4 separate regions of the Homo sapiens genome follow, and all the other regions are linked to region 3. Evidence: fine-mapped expression QTL. A gene starts in region 3. Each other region holds a variant in brackets. All regions are shown on one strand. Distances are between the middles of the regions.

Region 1 (2,740 bases), 88 kb before region 3:
ACCAGCCTGGCCAATGTGGCGAAACCCTGTTCCTACTAAAAATTTTAAAACTTAACACTGGGCGCAGTGGCTCACACCTGTAATCCCAGCACTTTTGGAGGCCGAAGTGGGTGGGTCACGAGGTCAGGAGTTTGAGACCAGCCTGACCAACATGGTGAAACCCCGTCTCTACTAAAAATACAAAAATTAGCCAGGCATGGTGGCACGCTTCTGGAATTACAGCTACTCAGGAGGCTGAGGCAGGAGAATCGCTTGAACCGGGGAGGCAGATGTTGCAGGAAGCCGAGATGGCGCCACTGCACTCCAGCCTGGGTGACAGAGTGAGATTCTGTCTCCAAAAAAAAAAAAAAAAAATTAGTCAAGCATGGTGGCGCATGCCTGTAATCTCAGCTACTTGGGAGGCTGAGGCAGGAGAATTGCATGAACCCGGGAGGCAGAGGTTGCAGTGAGCCGAGATCAAACCACTGCACTCCAGCCTGGGCAGCAAAGCAAGACTCTGTCTCAAAAAAAATAAATAAATAAAAGAAATTATGTTCACTTCCAATAGGACAATTTTGTATTTTCTCAGAAATATTAAAAGGAGCCATGCATGGTGGCTTGAACCTGTAGTCCCAGCTACTTTAGGGGTTGAGACAGGAGGATCACTTGAGTCTAGGAGTCAAAGACCAGCCTGGGCAACATAGTGAGACTCTGTCTCTATAAAACATTAAAAAATTAGCCAGGTGCTTGCCAGGCGTGGTGGCTCACACCTGTAATCGCAGCACTTTGGGAGGCCAAGGCAGGTGGATCACAAGGTCAGGAGTTCAAGACCAGCCTGGCCAAGAGGGTGAAACCCCGTCTCTACTAAAAATACAAAAAATTAGCCGGGCATGGTGGCAGACACCTGTAATCCCAGCTACTCGGGAGGCTGAGGCAGAGAATTGCTTGAACTCAGGAGGCAGAGGCTGCAGTGAGCTGAGATCATGCCACTGCACTCCAGCCTGGGTGACAGAGCAAGATTCTGTGTCAAAAAAAAAAAAAAAAAAAAAATCAGCCAAGTGCTTTGGGAGGCTGAGGCAGGCGGATCACCTGAGGTCAGGAGTTCAAGACCAGCTTGGCCAACACGGCGAAACCCTGTCTCTACTAAAAATACAAAAATTAACCAGGCGTGGTGGCACGCGCCTATAATCCAAGCTACTCAGGAGGCTGAGGCAGGAGAATTGCTTGAACCCAGGAGGCGGAGGTTGCAGTGAGCCAAGATCGCGCCATTGCACTTCAGCCTGGGCAACAAGAGTAAAACTCTGTCTCAACAACAACAACAAAAATTAGGCAGGTGTACTGGTGTGCACCTGTGGTCCCACCTACTAGGGAGGCTGAGGCGGGAGGATCACTTGAGCCCAGGAAGTTGAGGCTGCAGTTAGCTATGATCACATCACTGCACTCCAGCCTGGAAGACAGCAAGACTGTCGCAAAAAAAAAAAAATATATATATATATATATATATATATGTACACACACATATACATATATATACATACACATATATATATAAAACAGATTTTTAAATGACTGTGTTCCCTGCTGTCCCCTCCTGCTTCCATATTTCCCATCCATTC[T/C]TATCTATTCCTGGACCCACCCACCCCTGCCAAATGTGAGTTTTCTGAGCAAGCCACATCAGACCAGATACAACATTTTCCATGGCCATGCAGAGCAACAGGGAGGGAAATGAGCCTTGGCAAGGGTTTGGTGTGTGCCTGGGCCTGTCGCACTGCTGTCTGTGTGTGAATTTAGTTACCTCCACACTGACAGCAAGGGGCTCTTACCCTGGTGTTAGTCAGCTATTGCTACATAACAGGTTATCCCAAAACTTAGTGACTGAAAACAACAAACATTTATTATCCCACAGTTTTTGAGAGTCAGGCATCCAGAAGCAGCTGAGCTGGATGGTTGTGGCTTGGGGGCTCCCATGAGGTTGCAGTCAAGGTGTTGGCCAGGGCAGTATCATCTGAAGGCTGGACTGGGGCTGGAGGAGCCACTCGCAAACTGGCTCCCTCTACTGGCTGTTGGCTGTCAGCCTCAGTTCCTCGCTGTGTGGGGAGCTGCTTGAGCAACCTCACAACATGGCAGCTGCGTACCCCAGAGCATGTGACCCAAGAGTGAGAGCAAGGAGGAAGGCCTGTGCTTTTACATCCTAGTCTCAGAAGTTACGTGCCATTATTTCTGTCATATTCCATTAGAGCAAGTAGCTTGTCCAGCCCCTGCTCAAGGGGAGGGGAGTCACCTCCACCCCTTAAATGGAGGAGCATCAGAGAGTTTGTGGACATACTTTTAAACTGTCAGAATTGCCATTTTTCCAAAGGGTAAATACAACAAGGTCACAGCACTGGGAAGCAGCCAGGCAGGATTCACTCCCAACCTGCCTGGCTCCAAAGCCACTTCTCAGGGACCCGTGGCCACCAGACTCGCCTCCCTCAGCCTCAGTTTCCGTTTCTGTAAAATGGGGGTTGTGAGGATTAAATGAGATGGCATATGGAAACCTCTTAGCCCAGGGCCCGGTGTACAGTAGGTGCTCAGGTTGTCTTTTACAATTTTTCCTTAATATTATTATTTTTGAGATAGAGTCTCGCTCTGTCACCCAAGCTGGAATGCATTGGCACGATCTGAGCTCAGTCAACCTCTGCCTCCTGGGTTCAAGTGATTCTCCTGCCTCAGCCTCCCAAGTAGCTGGGATTACAGGTGTGTGCCACCACGCCTGGATAAT
Region 2 (2,500 bases), 21 kb after region 3:
TGACTCCCGAGGTGAAGCCACAGGAGGCAAGGGGGCTGAGAGGGGACAGGGGACTGGGGCCCATACCCTCCACCTCCCCTGCTGCAGCGGCCAGGTAGGTGCCGATCTGTCCTCCAGCTCCCTTGAGGCACCACCCCGGCCTCCCAAGGGCATAGGTCTTCTCAGGATGTGACACCCCGAGCTACTCACGTCAGTCTCCAGGAGGTTGTGCATGCTGGTTTCTGCCACCTCCTTGGACTCCTCGAACTTCTCCAGCGCCTGGCGTAGCTCCTCATCGGGGATCTTGCCCTGCCGCTTCTTCTTGTAGTCAAAGTCCAGGCGGCGGCCCTCCAGTTTCTTCAGGTGGTGCTGGAGACGTGGGGGACATGGGTCACACCAGTAGCGGCCAGAGGGCCGCCCCACGCATGGCTTTGACCCACTGTCCCTGCACCACTGGGGATCCTGCCTGCCTGAGACCCAGAGGGCAGTGCCGAGGCTGGAGGTGAGGGTGGCAGGAATGGGGCTGCCCCATCCGGCAGGGGGAAGGGACAGGCCCCAGGCTGGCGCAGGAGCAGCACCTGGATCTCCTTCAGGTCTTTCTCGCACAGGTTCTGGAGGGGGTCAATGAAGTTCTGCTTGACCTCGATGTCCAGGGAGTCCTTCACCTCTGCCAGGCGCTTCATGGACTCGCCGGCATCCAGCAATGCGTCACCTGTGGAGAAGTGGTGGGGGAAGCCATCATACCGGGCCTGGGACCACTAGACTGAGACACTCCTCAGCCTTTGTTTTTGAAATAGCGTTTCACAGGCTGGAACGCAGTGGCGCTGTACCAGCTCACTGCAGGCCTCAAACTGGGCTCAAGCCATGCTGGCACCTCAGCCTCCCAAGTAGCCGGGACCACAGGCGTTCACCCCCACACCTGGATCCTTTCCAACTTCTTTGAGATGAAGTCTCGCTGTTGCCCAGGCTGCAGTGCAGTGGCATGATCTCAGCTCACTGCAACCTCTGCCTCCCAGGTTCAAGCAATTCTCCTGTCTCAGCCTCCTGAGTAAGGGGGATTACAGGGGCCTGCCACCACATCCAGCTAATTTTTGTATTTTTAATAGAGACGGGGTTTCACCATATAGACCACACCGGTCTCGAACTCCTGACCTTGTGATCCGCCCGCCTCGGCCTCCCAAAGTGTTGGGATTACA[G/C]GCGTGAGCCACCGCACCCGGTTTTTGTTTTGTTTTGTTTTGTTTTGTTTTTTCATAGTCTCGGCTCACTGCAACCTCCACCTCCTGGGTTCAAGTGATTCTCCTGCCTCAGCCTCCCGAGTAGCTGGGGTTACAGGCATGCACTACCACACCCGGCTAATTGTGTGTGTGTGTGTGTGTGTGTGTGTGTGTGTATATATATATATATATATTTTTTTTTTTTTAGTAGAAGCGGGGTGGGGTTTCTCCATATTGGTCTTGCTGGTCTCGAATTCCCGATCTCAGGTGATCCACCTGCCTTGGCCTCCCAAAGTGTTGGGATTACAGGCATGAGCCACCACACTTGGCCCCATCCCAACTTCTAACAGCCCCCCAACACTCTAAGCCCAGGGCCCGGAAATTGGAACTCAGGGCAAAACAAAGGATCCTAAAATCCGAATCGATGCTGGACGTTAAACCAGACCCTCCAATGCTCCTAAAAGGGCCTAGGTTTGCCCTTAACAGGTGGAAGGACAGATGCTGGGGGGTCCAGGCCCTGGGGAAGCAGCTGGCTTGAGTTGGGGAAGGTCTGGAGCTACAGGAAGGGGCCCTATCAGCTGCTGGCCAGTGCTGGATGGGTTGGTCTGTGCAGTCTCCTGCACCTCTGCAGCTGGAAAGCTGTGGGGGCCACTGTACGTCCCCGGCACTCAGCACATGCAGGGCCTGGACCTGCCCTGCCTGTGTTGAGGTGTGGCCTCCAGGGACGGTGGGCGTGGCTTCCAGAGAGCACCACTCACCAAAGTTGGACTCGCCGCCCAGCTCCTTCCCGTGGCGGATCATGCACTCGCCCAGAAGCCCCTCCGACTGCGGGTAGCCGGGGTTCTTCACCTGGCCCCGGATCTTGGACACCGTGTTGAGCATGGTCAGCTTAGCCCGCGAGGCTGGGATAGGATGGCCAGGTGGGTGTGGGCTGTGAGGCCTGCACTCCTCTGCCCTGGCAGACTGCAGCCCCCACATCTCCTCCCCACCCTTGCTTCCTGTGCCTGTGGACAGCCTAGGCCACACAAAGCACAGTGGAATCCCCAGAGGGTCCCTTCCCTGCTCCTGCTAGCCTCAAAGGAGCTGGCAGCGGGTGGAGAGGTGACCAAGCTCCTCAGGGGGCAAAACCTCCTCCTTCCAAGGGCTGCTCCTCTTGGAACGTGGCTATGACCCCTCATCTGGGGGGTGCCAGGGAGGAGGCGCAGCAGTGATGTGCAGCGGGGGGTGGTTGAGGCCAAGGCTCCCGGGGTGGGTGATGAGCTGTGTCCCTTCCGCTGCCCGCTTGGGTCTGCTCCTGGCAGGGCCTG
Region 3 (2,740 bases):
AAGAGAAAGTGCGTAAGGAGTTGGGGAAATAAACTGAGGCCGGTTTGGGCTATGCTGAGTCTGCAGGCCTTGGGGATGCCCGTTGTTGGCTGGACAGTCAGGGTGGGGCCCCTAAAGGGTGCCTGGGCTGGACAACAATAGTTCACATGTACCCAGCTCTTGCTCTATGTCAAGTCTTCTTCCTGAGAACATTCCCGAGCACCCTGGAGAGCCTCCCCCGCACCCCTACTGTCCAGTTCCCACTTCCCGACTGCGGTCTGGGCAAAGCCACCCGCACTTGAGCCCATCCCACGGCGTCCCGGAGCTTTAGGAAGTCCCCATCCCGGACTTTCAACCCTGCCAGGGACTGAGGGAAATCCCAGAGCCTGGGCTCCGGGACGAAGGTCCCAGGACAGGGTCGGGGATGTAGTTGCAGAAACAGGGTAGGGGACAAAGGCCGGGGCTGCACTGATCAGGCGCGCAACGAGCCCGGCCCTGCCTCCTGCTCCGCCCAAGGGTATGGAGGGCCGGACTCGGCTGGCCTTATACCCGGAGCTGATTGGCTGGTGAGTCCAGTCCCTGCCTCTGATGGTTTGCGCTCATAACTAAGGGTTTCTACTGATTGGTTTACATGGACGTCTGCCCATTGGTCAAATCCGAGTTGGTGTAATCAGATAGTTGACACGGATTGGTTGGTGCGGGAATCCAGTAGCTTGCTATCGATTGGTTGAGGGTGAAATAAATGGGACTCTTATCATTGGCTGGCGGGCTCCGCAACGGTCCAATCATGGAATCAGTCGAGGGCCGCCCGGGAGGGTGGGAGTTAATTCTTTAGCGACTGAGGCCGGCTTGGGCTCTTTGGCTCCACCTGTGTCTGCGCGAGGCTGTTCCCTATTGGAGTCCGCATTGTTCCCCTGGACCTGAGTTTCTCCCCTGGTCCTAAAGGCCGAGGCCTCTGAGTTCCTCAAGTGCGGTGACCGCAGGTCTCACCTTCTCCTCTCCTTGCAGCAGGCTGAGCCACTCGCGCACCCGCCCCAGGCTTCCACCTTGCAACCTCTATCCCTGGACAGCGAGGCCTCAGTTTCCCCATTCGCACCAATGAGCTCCCGGTCAACACCCCGTCACGCCTCAGTTTCCCGAATGTTCCCAGAGGGCTGAGTTCCCGATCTCTCTCCCGCGTGGGCATCCCCGAGGCCTCAGTTTCTCCGCCCACCCCAGCGCGCCGAGCCCTTCCCCCGACCCCGGCGACGGCCAATGGTTGGGGCGCCCCTCCCCTCCCCGGGGCGGGGCCGCGTGACGTGCCGGGAAGCCGGAGTCTAGAGCTCCGGGCGCGGGGAGGCGCGGCCATGGCAGGTACGGCGGGCCCAGCGGGGCGGAGGCGCGGGGCGCGGGGCTGCAGGGGCGCGGGGCTGCAGAGCCGTGGGGCGAGCGGCCTCCCTGCAGCCTCTCGCTGTCCGCAGCTCCGGAGCCGCTGTCCCCGGCGGGCGGTGCGGGCGAGGAGGCGCCGGAGGAGGACGAGGACGAAGCGGAGGCCGAGGACCCTGAGCGGCCGAATGCGGGAGCGGGCGGTGGACGCAGTGGCGGCGGCGGCAGTAGCGTCAGCGGAGGAGGCGGCGGCGGCGGGGCCGGGGCGGGGGGCTGCGGCGGGCCCGGGGGCGCGCTCACCAGGCGCGCGGTCACACTGCGGGTGCTCCTCAAAGACGCGCTGCTGGAGCCTGGCGCCGGGGTGCTGTCCATCTACTACCTGGTGAGCACCCCGCCTCCCTCGTCCCATCGCGGCTCGGGCAGGAAGGGGAAACTGAGGCCTGGAGTTCCCTTGCTGCAGGACAAGCTTCAGTGTAGGGAGGGGACACTGAGGCCCGGAGCTCCCTTGCTGAGAGACGAGCCCCGGTGTGGCGAGGGGAAACTGAGGCCCGGGGCTCCGTTGACTGCAGGAAGAGCTCCAGTGTGAGGAGGGGAAACTGAGGCTCGGAGCTCTCTTGGCTGCAGGAAGAGCCCCGACATGAAGAGGGGAGACTGAGGCCCGGAGCTCCCTTGGCGGCAGGAAGAGCCCCGGTGTGAGGAAGGGAGACTGAGGCCTGGAGAGCTCCCTTGCTTTAGGACAAGCCCCAGTGTGGGGAGGGGAAACTGAGGCCCAGAGCTCCTTTCCTGCAGGAGGAGCTCCCGTGGAGGGGACACTGAGGCCCGGAGCTCTTTTTACGGGACAAGCCCCATGTGGAGAGAGGAATCTGAGGCACAGATGGGTCCTTCTGGTGGGGAGGACGTAGATTACCAAACACCCCATCCCACAAAGGAGAAGCTGAGGCTCAGAGAGGAGCCACCACCCGCGCAGGGTCAGATGGGCAACACCCCGGCCTTCCTGTGGTTTCCCAGCCGTGAAATGGAATATTTCCCCACCATGGGAAAATTAGGGGATGGTTAAATGAATAAAGCCCTCAGCAGGCGCCTGCCACATGGTAAGCACTTTATCTGTGGTAGGTATTAGTACTTTTTTTTTTTTTTTTTTTTTGAGACAGAGTCTCGCTTTTTTGCCCAGGCTGGAATGCAGTTGCTCGATCTCGGCTCACTGCAACCTCTGCCTCCCGGTTCAAGCGATTTTCTGCCTCAGCCTCCCGAGTAGCTGGGACTACAGGTATGCGCCACCACGCCTGGCTAATTTTTTTTTTTTGCAGTTTTAGTAGAGACGGGGTTTCACTATATTGGCCAGGCTGGTCTTGAACTCCTGACCTCGTGGTCCGCCTGCCTCAGCTCCCAAAGTGCT
Region 4 (2,740 bases), 84 kb before region 3:
TGAAAGACCTGAACCAGCGGCAGGCGCACGTGGACTTCGAGGCTATGCTGAGGCAGCACCGCCTGTCGGAGGAGGAGCGGCGGAGGCAGCAGCAGGAGGAGGACGAGCAGGAGACCGCGTGAGTCAGGGCCGGCCCAACCCAGCCCCACCTCGCAGCCTCTGCCCCGGCAGGCGCTGCCTCTGCCCCAGACCCTTTCCCCGCTCTCTGGAGTGTCGCCTTTGCAAGGACCCCTTTCCCACCGCCCATCTCACTTTCTCCCTTGTGGCGTCTCTCGAGGGGGTCCCAGGCCACTGCCGGGCACGGTGACTTAGCACGTGGTCGCCCGCATGGCTGCGGTTTGTCACAGCGAGAGGACACAGCAGATTCAGCAAAGGGGAAAGGCATGTGTGGTGTGTCGGGGGCCAGGCCTTCCAGATCCTCTCCTGGTGGAGCTTCGCAGGACGCGCCTCATCCCCTAGCACCAGCCTGGAGGACTCGAGAAAGGCGCCATCACTAGGGAAGCTCCTAGAGACCCAGCGTGGGGTTCCTATGGGGCCTGGTCCCACAGCCCCCGCTGCCTCACCCATGCCGGGATTCCAGACTCCAGAGGAAAGCAGGGGTCACGCATAAACCATGGTGTTTGCAGGAACAGCTGAAGCCCCAGAGCCCGTCCCATCCATGAGGGTGGGAGGCCCCCAGCACAGGCTCCCGGACACCCACCAAGGGACGCCCTCACCAGCCGCCTTCTGAGGACACAGCCTCAGGCCTCCTGGGTGAACACTTTTCTTTTTTTTTTTTTTTTTTTTTTTTTTTTTGAGACGGAGTCTCCCTCTGCTGCCCAGGCTGGAGGGCAGTGGCGCCATCTCGCTCACTGCAAGCTCCGCCTCCCGGGTTCATGCCATTCTGCCTCAGCCTCCCGAGTAGCTGGGATTAGAGGCATCCGCCACCAAGCCCGGCTAATTTTTTGTAATTTTTAGTAGAGATGGGGTTTCACCGTGTTAGCCAGGATGGTCTCGATCTCCTGACCTCGTGATCCGCCCGCCTCGGCCTCCCAAAGTGCTGGGATTGCAGGCGTGAGCCACCGCGCCCGGACGACGCTTTTCTTTTTCTTTGAGAC[G/A]GGGTTTTGCTCTGCCGCCCAGGCTGGAGTGCAGTAGTGCAGTCATAGCTCACTGTAGCCTCCATCTCCCGGGCTCAAGCGTTCCTCCTGCCTCAGCCTTCTGGGTAGCTGGGACCACAGGGACACATCACCATGCCCAGCTAATTGTTTTTATTTCTGTAGAGACAGGACCTCGCTATGTTGGACAGGCTGGTTTTGAACTCCTGGCCTCAAGCGATCCTCCCACCTTAGTCTCCTGAAGTGCTGGATGACACGTGTGAGCCCCTGTGGTTGGCTGGTGAATGCCTTTGACGCCGACCACCTCTGAGCCCGCGTGCTGATCCCCTCCTTTCCTGGTGCCTCATCTCCCCTCCCTCCTTTAGAATCTGAGCTGTAAGGACAGGGACGTGGTGGCCTCTCCTGTGTCCCCAGGGCTTCCAGCAGGTAGGTTCTGGTAGGTTCCACGTCAGTGCCTGATGGGTGTGCAGAGCAGCGATACCGTGCAGAACAGTGTTGGGAGCCTGCGTTCATCCTGCACCTTCCGGGTGCCGGGCGTGGCTGTAACCTCACTACCCACACAGCCCTGGGGGTCAGTGTGATCTTCATCATGGAGGGGACTGAGGTCCAGGGAGGTCCAGGCATGAGCCCCACCAAGGTTACCCTCCAGGCTCCATCCAGACAGGCTGGTTCCGGCATCCAGGCACTTAACCACACCACTGCCCTCGGTGGACACGGAAAAGTTAATGTAAAAAAGTAGAAGGGGCCGGGCGCAGGGTCTCCTGCCTGCCATCCTGCACTGTGGGAGGCTGAGGCGGGCGGATCACCTGAGGTCAGCAGTTCGAGACCAGCCTGGCCAACATGGCGAAACCCCATCTGTACTAAAAATACAAAAACAAATTAGCTGGGCGTGGTGGCAGATGCCTGTAATTCCAGCTGCTCCAGAGGCTGAGACAGGAGAATTGCCTGAACCCGGGAGGCAGAGGTTATAGTGAGCCGAGATGGTGCCACTGAACTCCAGCCTGGGCGACAGAGCAAGATTCCTCCTAAAAAAAATGAAAATTAAAAAGTAGACTAGGTGCGGTCGGTGGCTCACGCCCGTAATCCCAGCACTTTGGGAGGCTGAAGTGGGCGTATCACCTGAGGTCAGGAGTTCGAGACCAGCCTGGCCAAGATGGTGAAACCCCGTCTCTACTAAAACTACAGAAATTAGCTGGACATGGTGGTATGTGCCTGTAGTCCTAGCTAACATTTTTAATTTTTTTAGAGACGGGGTCTCGCTATGTTGCCCAGGCTGGTCTCTAACCCCTGGCTCAAGCGATCCTCCCGTCTCAGCGTCCCAAAGAGCTGGGATGACAGGCATGAGCCACTGCATCTGGCCCCTTTAATCTGTTTTATGTTTAAATAGAGGAAGTGGTAACCACTGGGTTAAGGAAGTCCCAATGGGTGCTCTGCCCTCACGGAGCTCACTGTGTGGGGAGGGAGAGGGACAAGGAGACCAATACCCAGGACAACATCCATCTGGGTGAGAGAGAAGCCAGGATGCGTGAGCTTGAATTATGAGGATGAGCTTCTCAGAGGAAGAGCGTCTTGCATTGGGTATTGAAGGTCGAGTAGGAGTTCACCAAGCGAGTGCTTGGCAAAGGGGTCATCCCAGGTAAGGGGAT

The links. PIP is the estimated chance that this variant, and not a neighbour inherited with it, causes the effect.
Region 1: its variant is the best candidate, but not a certain one, in a credible set for the expression of MPND in whole blood (INTERVAL, PIP 0.50).
Region 2: its variant is the best candidate, but not a certain one, in a credible set for the expression of MPND in thyroid (GTEx, PIP 0.83).
Region 4: its variant is the best candidate, but not a certain one, in a credible set for the expression of MPND in liver (GTEx, PIP 0.50).

What each region holds. Positions count from the first base shown.
Region 1 is chr19:4,254,721-4,257,460 of GRCh38, forward strand. All of the region lies in intron 4 of YJU2 (YJU2 splicing factor homolog), which reads left to right. Among named protein-coding and RNA genes, the nearest start is that of YJU2, 9.0 kb to the left of the region's middle. The variant T/C (reference allele first, on the strand shown) is at 1,596.
Region 2 is chr19:4,363,531-4,366,030 of GRCh38, forward strand. It overlaps SH3GL1 (SH3 domain containing GRB2 like 1, endophilin A2), which reads right to left. Exons shown (of 10, transcript NM_003025.4): 4 at 1,952-2,095; 5 at 558-691; 6 at 190-348. Among named protein-coding and RNA genes, the nearest start is that of MPND, 21 kb to the left of the region's middle. RefSeq lists an enhancer at 2,392-2,500. The variant G/C (reference allele first, on the strand shown) is at 1,176.
Region 3 is chr19:4,342,269-4,345,008 of GRCh38, forward strand. MPND (MPN domain containing) reads left to right here and starts at 1,294. Exons shown (of 13, transcript NM_001300862.2): 1 at 1,294-1,332; 2 at 1,440-1,726. The coding sequence starts at 1,326. RefSeq lists enhancers at 206-325, 346-1,077 and a silencer at 1,146-1,435.
Region 4 is chr19:4,258,306-4,261,045 of GRCh38, forward strand. It overlaps YJU2 (YJU2 splicing factor homolog), which reads left to right. Exons shown (of 8, transcript NM_018074.6): 5 at 1-118. Among named protein-coding and RNA genes, the nearest start is that of YJU2, 13 kb to the left of the region's middle. The variant G/A (reference allele first, on the strand shown) is at 1,098.